Regions from separate parts of the Homo sapiens genome. Here region 1 is linked to region 2. Evidence: fine-mapped QTL for protein levels in blood plasma. A gene starts in region 2. The other region holds a variant in brackets. All regions are shown on one strand. Distances are between the middles of the regions.

Region 1 (5,000 bases), 35 kb after region 2:
GCTAGGAGGTGGTAGAAAAGAGATTTGAGTCTGACTTCAAATTCACACCCTCTTCCCTTCTACCAACTTTTCCCAAACTTTAGGTAGGTGTGCACTACACATGCCAACATGCCATCTTCTCAATTTTTCATCAGCTGTGTTCCTTCTGTCCTAAACATTTCTTAATATTTTCTTTAGGCCAGGCACAGTGGCTCATGCCTGTAATTCCAGCACTTTGGGAGACCAAGGTGGGAGGATCACTTGTGGTCAGAAGTTCAAGATCAGCCTGGCCAACATGGTGAAACCCTGTCTCTACTAAAAATACAAAAATTAGCCAGGCATGGTGGTGGGGGCCTGTAATCCCAGCTACTCGGGAGGCTGAGGCAGGAGAATCGCTTGAATCCAGGAGGCAGAGGTTGCAGTGAGCCAAGGCTGTGCCATTGCACTCCAGCCTGGACAACAAGAGTGAAACTCCATCTCAAAACCAATTTTGTTTTCTTTGACTAATTTTAAAAATTTATAAGTGTACTTCATAATAGAAAGTTTTTATCCTTACTGCAAATGAAAACAGAATGATTTCCTATCATTAAAAAAAAAAGGTAGCTTTAAACACATATACAATTAGGAGAATGTGATTCAACTCTGGGTAGCTTTTGTTGTGTTCCTGCACATAAAATCAGAAAGATTGACTTTCTCATATGCTGATTAAATATTAATGCTATGAACATGAACTTCCTCAGTCATTTCATGCACAACCAGTGCTATATGTTCCATACTCAAGAAAACACTGTTTTACACCACTCTACTTCTCAACAGATCTCAAGGGCCAACATCACTGGAACAAACAGAGCTGGAGGCTTGGAGGCATTGAGGTCTTCTGTTTACCAGGGCAAGAATTTCTTTCTTTCTTCCTTTCTTTCTTTCTCTCTTTATTTTTCTTTCTTTCTTTCTTTCTTTCTTTCTTTCTTTCTTTCTTTCTTTCTTTCTTTCTTTTCTTTCTCTTTCTTTCTTTCCTTCCTTCCTTCCTTCCTTCCTTCCTTCCTTCTTTCTTTCTTTCTTTCTTTCTTTCTTTCTTTCTTTCTTTCTTTCTTTCTTTCTTTCTTTCTTTCTCTCTCCCTTTCTTTCTTTCTTTCTTTTCTTTCTCTCTCTCTCTCTTTCTTTCTTTCTTTCTCTCCTTCTTTCTTTTTTGACAGAGTCTCCCTTTGTCACCCAGACTGGAGTGCAGTGGCATGATCTCGGCTCACTGCAACCTCTGCCTCCCAGGTTTAAGTGATTCTCTTGCCTCAACCTCCTGAATAGCTGGGACTACAGGCATGCGCAACACCTGGCTAATTTTTGTATTTTTAGTAGAGATGGGGTTTTGCTATGTTGGCCAGGCTGGTCTCAAACTCCTGGCCTCCAGTGATCCACCTGCCTTGGCCTCCCAAAGTGCTGGGATTACAGGTGTGAGCCACCACACCCGGCCTGCACATCATCCTTGACCAAGGGTTGAATTAACTGAAAAGCAGCTGTGTCATAATGGCTAAGAACATGTATTTATAATTACTACTGGCTCATAAGAAGAATCACATAAATTCAACAAAATAAAAGCCACATACGGCAGACCCACAGCTAGTATCATACTAAATGGGGAAAAACTGAAAGCCTTTCCTCTTACATCTGGAACACGACAAGGATGGCTGCGTTTCACCACTGTTATTCAACATAGTAGTGGAAGCCCTAGCTAGAGCAATCAGACAAGCAAAAAAAATAAAGGGCATCCAAATTGGAAAGGAAGAACTCAAATTATCCTGTTTGCAGATGATACGTTTTTGTTTTGTTTTGTTTTGGAAGGAAGGTCTTGCTCTATTGCCCAGTGGTGTGATCTTGGCTCACTGCAACCTCCACCTCCCAGGTTCAAGCAATTCTCATGCCTCAGCCTCCCAAATAGCTGGGATTACAGGCATGCACCATCACGCCCAGCTAATTTTTGTATAATTTAGTAGAGATAGGGTTTCACCATATTGCCCAGGCTGGCCTTGAACTCCTGGCCTCATGTGATCTGCCCACCTCAGCCTCCCAAAGTGCTGGGATTACAGGTGTGAGCCACTACAACTGGCCAATATAATCTTATATTTGGAAAATTCTAAAGACTCCAGCAAAAAACTATTAGAACTGATATACAAATTCAGTAAAGATGCAAGACCCCTGAGCAACAATAGTGTTCCAGGTTAATTCTTTCTGTTTGTTTGTTTTTGTATTTGAGACAGGGTCTGGCTCTGTCACCCAGGCTGGAGTAATTTTGGCTCACTGCAGCCTCCACCTCCCAGGCTCAAGCCATCCTCCTATCTCAGCCTCCTTAGTAGCTGAGACTACAGGTGCATGCCACCACGCCCAGCTAATTTGTGTGTGTGTGTGTGTGTGTGTGTGTGTGTGTGTGTGTGTGTTTGTTGTTGTTGAGACAGGGTCCCACTCTGTTGCCCAGGCTGGTCTCGAAACTCCTGAGCTCAGGTGATCCACCTGCCTTGGCCTCCCAAAGTACTGGGATTACAGGCATGAGCTACCACACCTGGCCAGGTTAATTCTTTATTCTATATGCTGTCTGCTTATAGAAAGGTCTCAGATACCACTCCTCTGTGTCATGGAAGGCACCTACTCGCACTACCATTCTAAACTTTGTCACGTGATTTCAGGTTCATAGGTTCAATGTTAATGTGTTTCCATTTCTATTTCAGTTAATCAGGTGCTGCTGTTCCTTCTGATCGTGACCCTCTGTGTGATTCTGT[A/G]TAAGAAAGTTCATAAGGGGACTGTGCCCAAGAATGACGCAGGTGAGCAGACATGGAATTCATTGAGTTGGGATACCCAGGAATGTGGTTTGAATATGTTCCTCTAGGTCCTTTCAATAGCTGGGTTCAGGGACAAGTGACAGTTTGGTCAACTCCCAAGGACCTGCTAGTAGAATATCCGCCCTAGACCACCTTTTCAGTCGTGCCCTAGGATGGTCGGTGCTATTCAAACTTTAGCATGTGTGAGAGTCACATGGAGAGCTTGTTAAAACACAGCACTGGGCCCACCCGTGAGGTGTAGGATCAGTAGGTATGGTGTGGGGCCTCAAGACTTGCATTTCCGATAAGCTCCTGGTTGAGGCTGATGCTGTAGGTTCTTGGACCACAGGGTGAGTGCACTGCTCCACACTCCATCTCTTTGGAGCTTCTCAATGACTTTGCTTATGGAAACCACCCTCTTTCTCCTCTCCCTGCTGGTTCATTCCCATCAGTGCAAGTCAGCCTCATAACTCTCAACTTGAAAATGGCCCTTCATTGGCCCTGTGGTCTCTCCCAGCTGCACTGAGAACCATGTTTCCCTCCTCGGGGGTGAATTGCCTGAGATGGCACCTTCAAAACTCCAATGCACACACAAAGTCAACCTCCATAAAAATCAGGAAGCACTGTTTATTACATTTTTAATTAATTTACTTTTTTTTTTGAGACAGAATCTCACTCTGTTGCCCCAGCTCAAATACAGTGGCACAATAGCAGCTCCCTGCAGCCTCGACCTCCAGGGCTCAAGCAATCCTCCGGCCTCAGCACCCCAGGAAGTTGGAACTACAGGTGTGTGCCACCACGCCCAGCTAATTTTTTGTAGAAATGGGTTTTGCCATGCTGCTCAGGTTCATCTTGAACTCCTGGGCTCAAGCTGTCCTCCTACCTTGGCCTCCCAAAGTGCTGGGATTACAGGCATGAGCTCCATGCCCAGCTAATTTACTTTTTATATAAATCAAGCAAATACACACTTACGGGCTGGCGATGGTGGCTCATACTTGTAATCCAGCACTTTGGGAGGCTGAGGCGGGAGGATCACTTGAGTCCAGGTGTTTGAGACCAGCCCAGCCTAGGCAACAAAGCAAGACCCCATCTGCATGCACACAAAAAATTACCTGGGCATGGTGGGGCATGCCTATAGTCCCAGCTACTTGGGAGCTGGAATGAGAGGATCACTTGAGCCTAGGAGGTCTAAGCAGCAGTGAGCCCTGATAGTGCCACTGCACTCCAGCTTGGATGACAGAGTGAGACTCTGAATACAGTTATTTGGTGTGTTACATACATTTATTCCACAGTTTTGTTTTTTTTTTCAGTCAGACACTTAGGGACTGGAAACACAACAGTGAACAAAACAATATCCCTATTCCCAGGAAGCTGGCATTTCTTTCTGATTATATTTTGTAATTTAAAAATTCATTTAAAAATAATTAAAAACATGTATAATCTGATCTAAATGAACATGGAATCTGCAAAGAGAATGATTTTCATACAAAGACATATATACAAATGTTCTTAGGGTATAATTCATAGTAGCCCCAAACTGGAAACAATTCACATGTACATCAACTCGTGAGGGATACAAAAAATGTAATTTATCTCACACAATGAAATACTTTTCGACAGTAAAAAGGAACAAATGACTGATACAAGCTGCAATATGGATGAACCTGAAAAAAAACTATGCTAAATAAAAGAAGTCAGACCTGAAAGACCATATATTGTATGATTCCATCTATATGAAATTTCTAGAAAAGGAAAATCTATGGAGACACAGAGCAGATCAGTGGTTGCCTAGAGCTGGGAGTGGGAATGGACTGACTGCAGACCAGGCAGCTCAATGGAACTTTCTAAAATTGGATCTTGGTGATGGTTGTGCAATTCTATAAATTTACTAAACATCATTGTACTGTACGCTTACAATGGGTAAATTTTTAAAAATCTGTATTCGTTTGCTTGGGCTGCCATAACAAAATAGCACAGACTAGGTGGCTAGACCATAGAAATGTATTTTCTCTGGTTCTGGAGGCTGGAAGTCCAGGATCAAGGTGTGAGCAGGTTTTGTTTCTCCTGAGGCCTCTCTCCTTGGCATGCAGATGGCCGCCTTCTTGCTGTGTCCTCACGTGGCCTTTTCTCTGTGCTGCATTCCTGGCTGTGACCCTCTGTGTGATTCTCCTCTTTTCCTCCTTTTATTAGGATACCAGTCTTACTGGGATAAGGCCT
Region 2 (5,000 bases):
TGTGAAGGAAATTGCACTGGGCAGGTGTCAGCTCAGGCTGCTGTCCACATGATGCCTGGGACATGTCTGAGGGACTAGCCTGCTGCAAGTTAACAGCACATAATTCTGGAAGGGCGGTGGGAAACCCTGAGCCAGAAGTGGTTCTTATTTTCGCTCATGTGTGTGCAGTGAGTATTTAGAGCATAGGATATTGTGCTGCCCCTGAACCTTATGACTTCCCAGAGGTGACCAACGTTTTAGCTAAAAACATTTAGCTAAATGTTTGAATGGAATTGTGCTTTAAAATAAGGTACAACTTGCTGAGCATGGTGGTGCATGACTACAGTCCCAGCTACTCGGGAGGCTGAGGAGAAAGGCCCAGGAATTCAAGTCCAGCCTGGGCAACATAGCAAGACACGTCTCTACATAATAATAATAATAATTAATACATAAAATAAGGTACAAGATGCTGGGGGTAAAGAGAGAAGAGGAGGGGCATCATGTCAAGCCTCTCCAGGAGAAAGGACACACCTGCTGGATTGTGTGAGGGATTTAGAATAGGGGCATATAAGGGAACACAGGGCAGTCAATAATTCTACACAGGCAGCAAATTTGATGCTGAAGGATGACCAATGTGGATGCCATGCCACTTAACGCTACTGTTGCAGCCGCAGATCCTAGTATTTGAAATATGCCTCAAGAAGGAAACACTTAAGAAGTGCTGAATAAGAATTCCAATCCTGGCTTCATCGCTAACTTGCTTTGGGAACTTGGGCTTTAATTTGCTCAAAGCCTCAGTTTGCTCATCTGTAAATTGGGGCAAATAACATCTGTTCAACTTACCTACCAGAAATGTTGTGTGGCTAAAAAGAAATAGAAGATATGAAAATGCTTTGGCTATATTCAAAGTTCTATATACATGGAAGATATTCAGGATCCTCCCACCTTCAAAGTTCATATCTAAGAAAACCCCTACTAAATCCTTTAGAATGGAACTGCTCAATATAGTAGCCACTAGCCACATTGACTACTGAGTACTTAAATGTGACTAGTGCAACTGAGGAACTGAATTTTTAATTTTATTTAACTGTAACTAATTTTAATTGAAAAACTGATACTCTATTCAATTACTGGAAAACTTTTAAGTACATTTGGACCAACCTGGACTCGTGAATTTACTTTTGTTCCCAGTGTTTTTTTCTATTTTTTTATTGATAACATAATAGATATACATATTTTGAGTGTGTATTCAAACATTTAATATTAATACATTCATATAATTTGTAAAGATCAAATCAGTGTAACTGGGATATCCATTACCTTAAATGAATCTACTTTTTAAATGGTATTTATAAAATCTAAATATATGTGAAGTGTTTCTGCTTAAATTTAGTGTTTGAATTGAGATGTGCTCCAAGTGTACAACACACACCAAATTTCAAAGACTTAGTTAAAAAAAAAACACTGGGAAGGGCAGGAGGAAGGGAGAGATAGGGAGAGATTTGTTAAAGGATATAAAATTATAGCTAGATAGGAGGAATAGGTTCTAGTGTAGTATGGCCATAGTTAACAATAATATATAGCTTCAAAGAGCTAGAAGGAGGATATTGAATGTTTCCAACATAAGCATCAATATTTGAGATTATAGATATGCTAATTACAGTGTTCTGATCACTATACATTGTATATTGAAACATCAATATGTACCCCATGAATATGTACAATTATTACATGAATATGTATCAAAACAAATTAAATTTAAAGACAAAACAAAGAACATAAAACATCTTCTTAATAATGTTTTATATTATGTGTTGAAATGATAACATCTTGTATATATTGGGTAAAGTAAAATATATCATTAAGATAAATTTTACCTCTTTGTACTTTTTTCTTAATGTGGCTACTAGAAAATTTTAAATTATAGCCAGGTGTAGTGATGTGCACCTGTAATCTCAGCTACTCAGGAGGCTGAGACGGGAGGATCGCCTGAACCTTGAAGTTCACGGCTGCAGTGAGCTGTGATCACGCCACTGCACTCCAGCCTGAGTAACAGAGCAAGACCCTGTCTCTTTAAAAAAAAAAAAAAGTAAAATTGGCCGGATGAGGTGGCTCACGCCTGTAATCCCAGCACTTTGGGAGGCTGAGGCGGCGGATCACCTGAGGTCAGGTGTTTGAGACCAGCCTGGCCAACATGGCGAAACCCCATCTCTACTAAAAATACAAAAATTAGCTGGGTGTAGTGGTGGGCGCCTGTAATCCCAGCTACTCGGGAGGCTGAGGCAGGAGAATCATTTGAACCGGGGAGGCGGAGGTTGCAGTGAGCCGAGATCTCATCACTGCACTCTAGCCTGGGAGACAGAGGGAGACTCCGTCTCAAAAAAAAAAAAAAGTAAAATTACAGGGTGGCTTGCATTTTATTTCTGTTGGAGAGCACCACTTTAGAAAGAGACAGTGAGCAGGGAGATCCTTATATCCTTATAGGAAATAGGAAGAGGAGCCATTGCAGAAATAAATTCTGTGATCCCAGACAAAGTGCTGGCACCATCTCCCGGGTTTGAGAACACACCGCAGAGATACAGAACAGCGCAGATTGCTGTTGAGGTCAGCTCCCAGCTCCCTGCCTCATTCCTCTCTGATTCCTCTTTTGTTCAGGCACAAAAACACTCCATCCTGAAACTTTTGTCATTATTGCCTTGGTAGAAGAAGACCACAGTTGTTACCTGGGTTTTGATTTGGGGACAACAGCATTTCAATGACTAGGAGATTTCAGGAGAAGCTAGTGGCCATGAAGATTCTCAAAATCAGCATGAACTTTATTTTTCACTGGTGTTCTTTCAAAGTTTGCCTTCGACTCAACGTGTGGTAGAAATTCACCCTGAAAGCATTTGCTCTTCTCTGGTTTTGTGTCTTTTCCTCCAGAACAGCGTTGTTTTTTGCATGTTTTGCACTTAGCCAGAGGAAGTCTGGCGCATCCGAGCCGGCCAGCCGAGCACATCTGGAAGTGGTTTCTGGGGCCGCCCCTCTCTGCCAGCGCAACTCCTGGGTTCCCAGCGGCTTCGCGCAGAGGTGGAAGAAACCCGAGACGTTCCGAAGTCAACGCAAGCAAAGGGGAGTGCGGGTCGGGGAGGAATATTCTTTTGGAAACGTAATATTGGCCTTGGGGCTCTCCAGCCCTTTGGGACTTCCAATGGGATCTTAGAAGCAGCCGAAGCAGCGTGAGGGCGGCAGCCCAGGGCCAGCCACGATTTGAACGCTCTGCCTTGCAGCTCTTCTGGACCGAGGAGCCCAAAGCCCTACCCTCACCATTCACCAGGTAAATAGAGAAATTTACGAGCAGTGTGCAGTCGTTCCGTTTTATCCTGGCCGGTCTGCAGCAGTTCTTTATTCTGCTACAGACCCAAGAAAGTAAATCAGAGGTGTCAGATTGCCCCACACAAACTTTGCCTTCAGAAACTTCCCAGTCCGAACTGGTAGCATTCCAGCGGAACCCTTTTCGGCCATTTCCAGCAAATCCAGTGTGCAATGTTTTTCACATCCTGGGCTGCTTTTCCAGACCTGGGTTTCTCCTCCTTCTCTCCACAAATATGATAATTTACTATTTGTATCAGATTTTAAACATAAAAATCAGCAGTTAGGATGTGGATGAATGCTATTATTTAATGAAGGTATGTCCTGAGCCACAAATTATTTAACTGAGCATGATTCATGTTTTCAGAATCTGCCTTAGGAAGCTGTTCTGAGGATCTCCATCCCCCCAGAAAGAACTGGCCGTTGTGGAAACCCAAGTGAGGCTTATTGTAAATACAGTAGTCGTGGTGTTTGGGTTGAAAATGCTTTTTAAACATTAAAAAAGATCTTATGTTTACTTTATAAGCAAGTGTCACACATTGGACAAGCCTGGTATATAATTTATGAAATAAGAAGGATAGTTAACATGAGAGTAAAAAAAAAAAAACCTGAGAGAGAGTGAGAGAAAGAAAACATGATGATATCTGAATGTCTGGATGTGCTTTGAAAAAAAAAATCAGTCCTCTCGTTGTTTGGCCCCTGTGCAGCCAAATATCCAAAGTGATATTGGTTGGTTTTTGTCTTTTCCTTTTCCTCCAAATGTTCTGGTGTGGCACTTCTGTGTAATATCCTTTCTATATTACATAATGGAATTCCAGTTCTCCCTTTAATGCACTTGGAAGTAGACTGTGCAATGCAGTGGTAAGAACATAGGCTCTGGGGTCAGGCTTACAGGACTGAATCTACATGCTGCCACTTACACACCTTCTAAGCTCGACTCCGGGTGAATTGTTTAACTGCATGCACCCTAGTTCCTCATCTGTAAAATGGAAATTACATGACCTAATGTCTATAGAGGACATAATACAGGACCTGCAAAGTAGTTAGGCCTCAGGAAAGGTTAGCTTCTCTGATGGTGCTGATGATGGCAGTGGTGACAAAAGTGATCATGCATCCTGTTTTTGGCAACACCTCTGCTTTTGACCATGGTTCCCTCTGACAGTCCAGTGGTCCAAGTGTTCCTCATACCCTAATATGTCATCTCTCCAGCACTTTGCTTTCTTCCTTTCTTCCTTCAGACACCTCTCTTTCTTTTATTTCCCATTCTGTCTTTCATTATTTCTTCTTTGTGCTTCCTCTTTCCTTGCTGAGAAAATGTGAGGTTCATTAAGGCACAGCCCTCATAGTTTTCATTTCTAGTTCCCGAGGAAAATGATTCTAAATCCTTTTTAATTTCAGCATTTTCCAAAGAAAGTTCTGAGAAAACATAGTCCCATGGGAAACTCTGTGAACTATATTACCCTCTTAGAGATCGCAAGGCATAATAGCATTTTAAAGGTCCTGAGAAGTCCTGTAGTAGAGAAATCCTCTTAAGGTTGTTTAACGCAATGATTCCCAAACAGTTGATCGCTGAACCACCTTATCACATAATGTAGGTTAACATTTCTAGGAGCACACTCTGCGGTGTGCTATTCTGGACACACTTGTTTTCATTTTGGTTCCTCTTTTGG

Direction of the effects. Alleles are on the strand shown, and positions count from the first base shown. The strength of an association depends on the size of the effect and on how common the allele is.
In carriers of allele G in region 1, the plasma level of the protein whose gene starts at base 3,003 in region 2 tends to be higher than with A alone (moderate association).

What was found. PIP is the posterior inclusion probability: the model's chance that the variant is causal. Protein levels are from antibody-based Olink assays in UK Biobank. Linkage for the fine-mapping came from a reference panel and not from the study's own genotypes, which makes the PIPs less certain.
Region 1: its variant is fine-mapped to the plasma level of the GLT8D2 protein (UK Biobank, PIP above 0.99). The variant lies in the coding sequence of GLT8D2. If it changes the protein, the assay may bind it differently, which can mimic a change of level.

Annotation. Positions count from the first base shown.
Region 1 is chr12:104,012,799-104,017,798 of GRCh38, reverse strand. It overlaps GLT8D2 (glycosyltransferase 8 domain containing 2), which reads left to right. Exons shown (of 11, transcript NM_001384711.1): 4 at 2,694-2,786. Among named protein-coding and RNA genes, the nearest start is that of GLT8D2, 35 kb to the left of the region's middle. RefSeq lists a silencer at 3,210-3,432. The variant A/G (reference allele first, on the strand shown) is at 2,745.
Region 2 is chr12:104,048,190-104,053,189 of GRCh38, reverse strand. It overlaps GLT8D2 (glycosyltransferase 8 domain containing 2), which reads left to right and starts at 3,003. Exons shown (of 11, transcript NM_001384711.1): 1 at 3,003-3,295.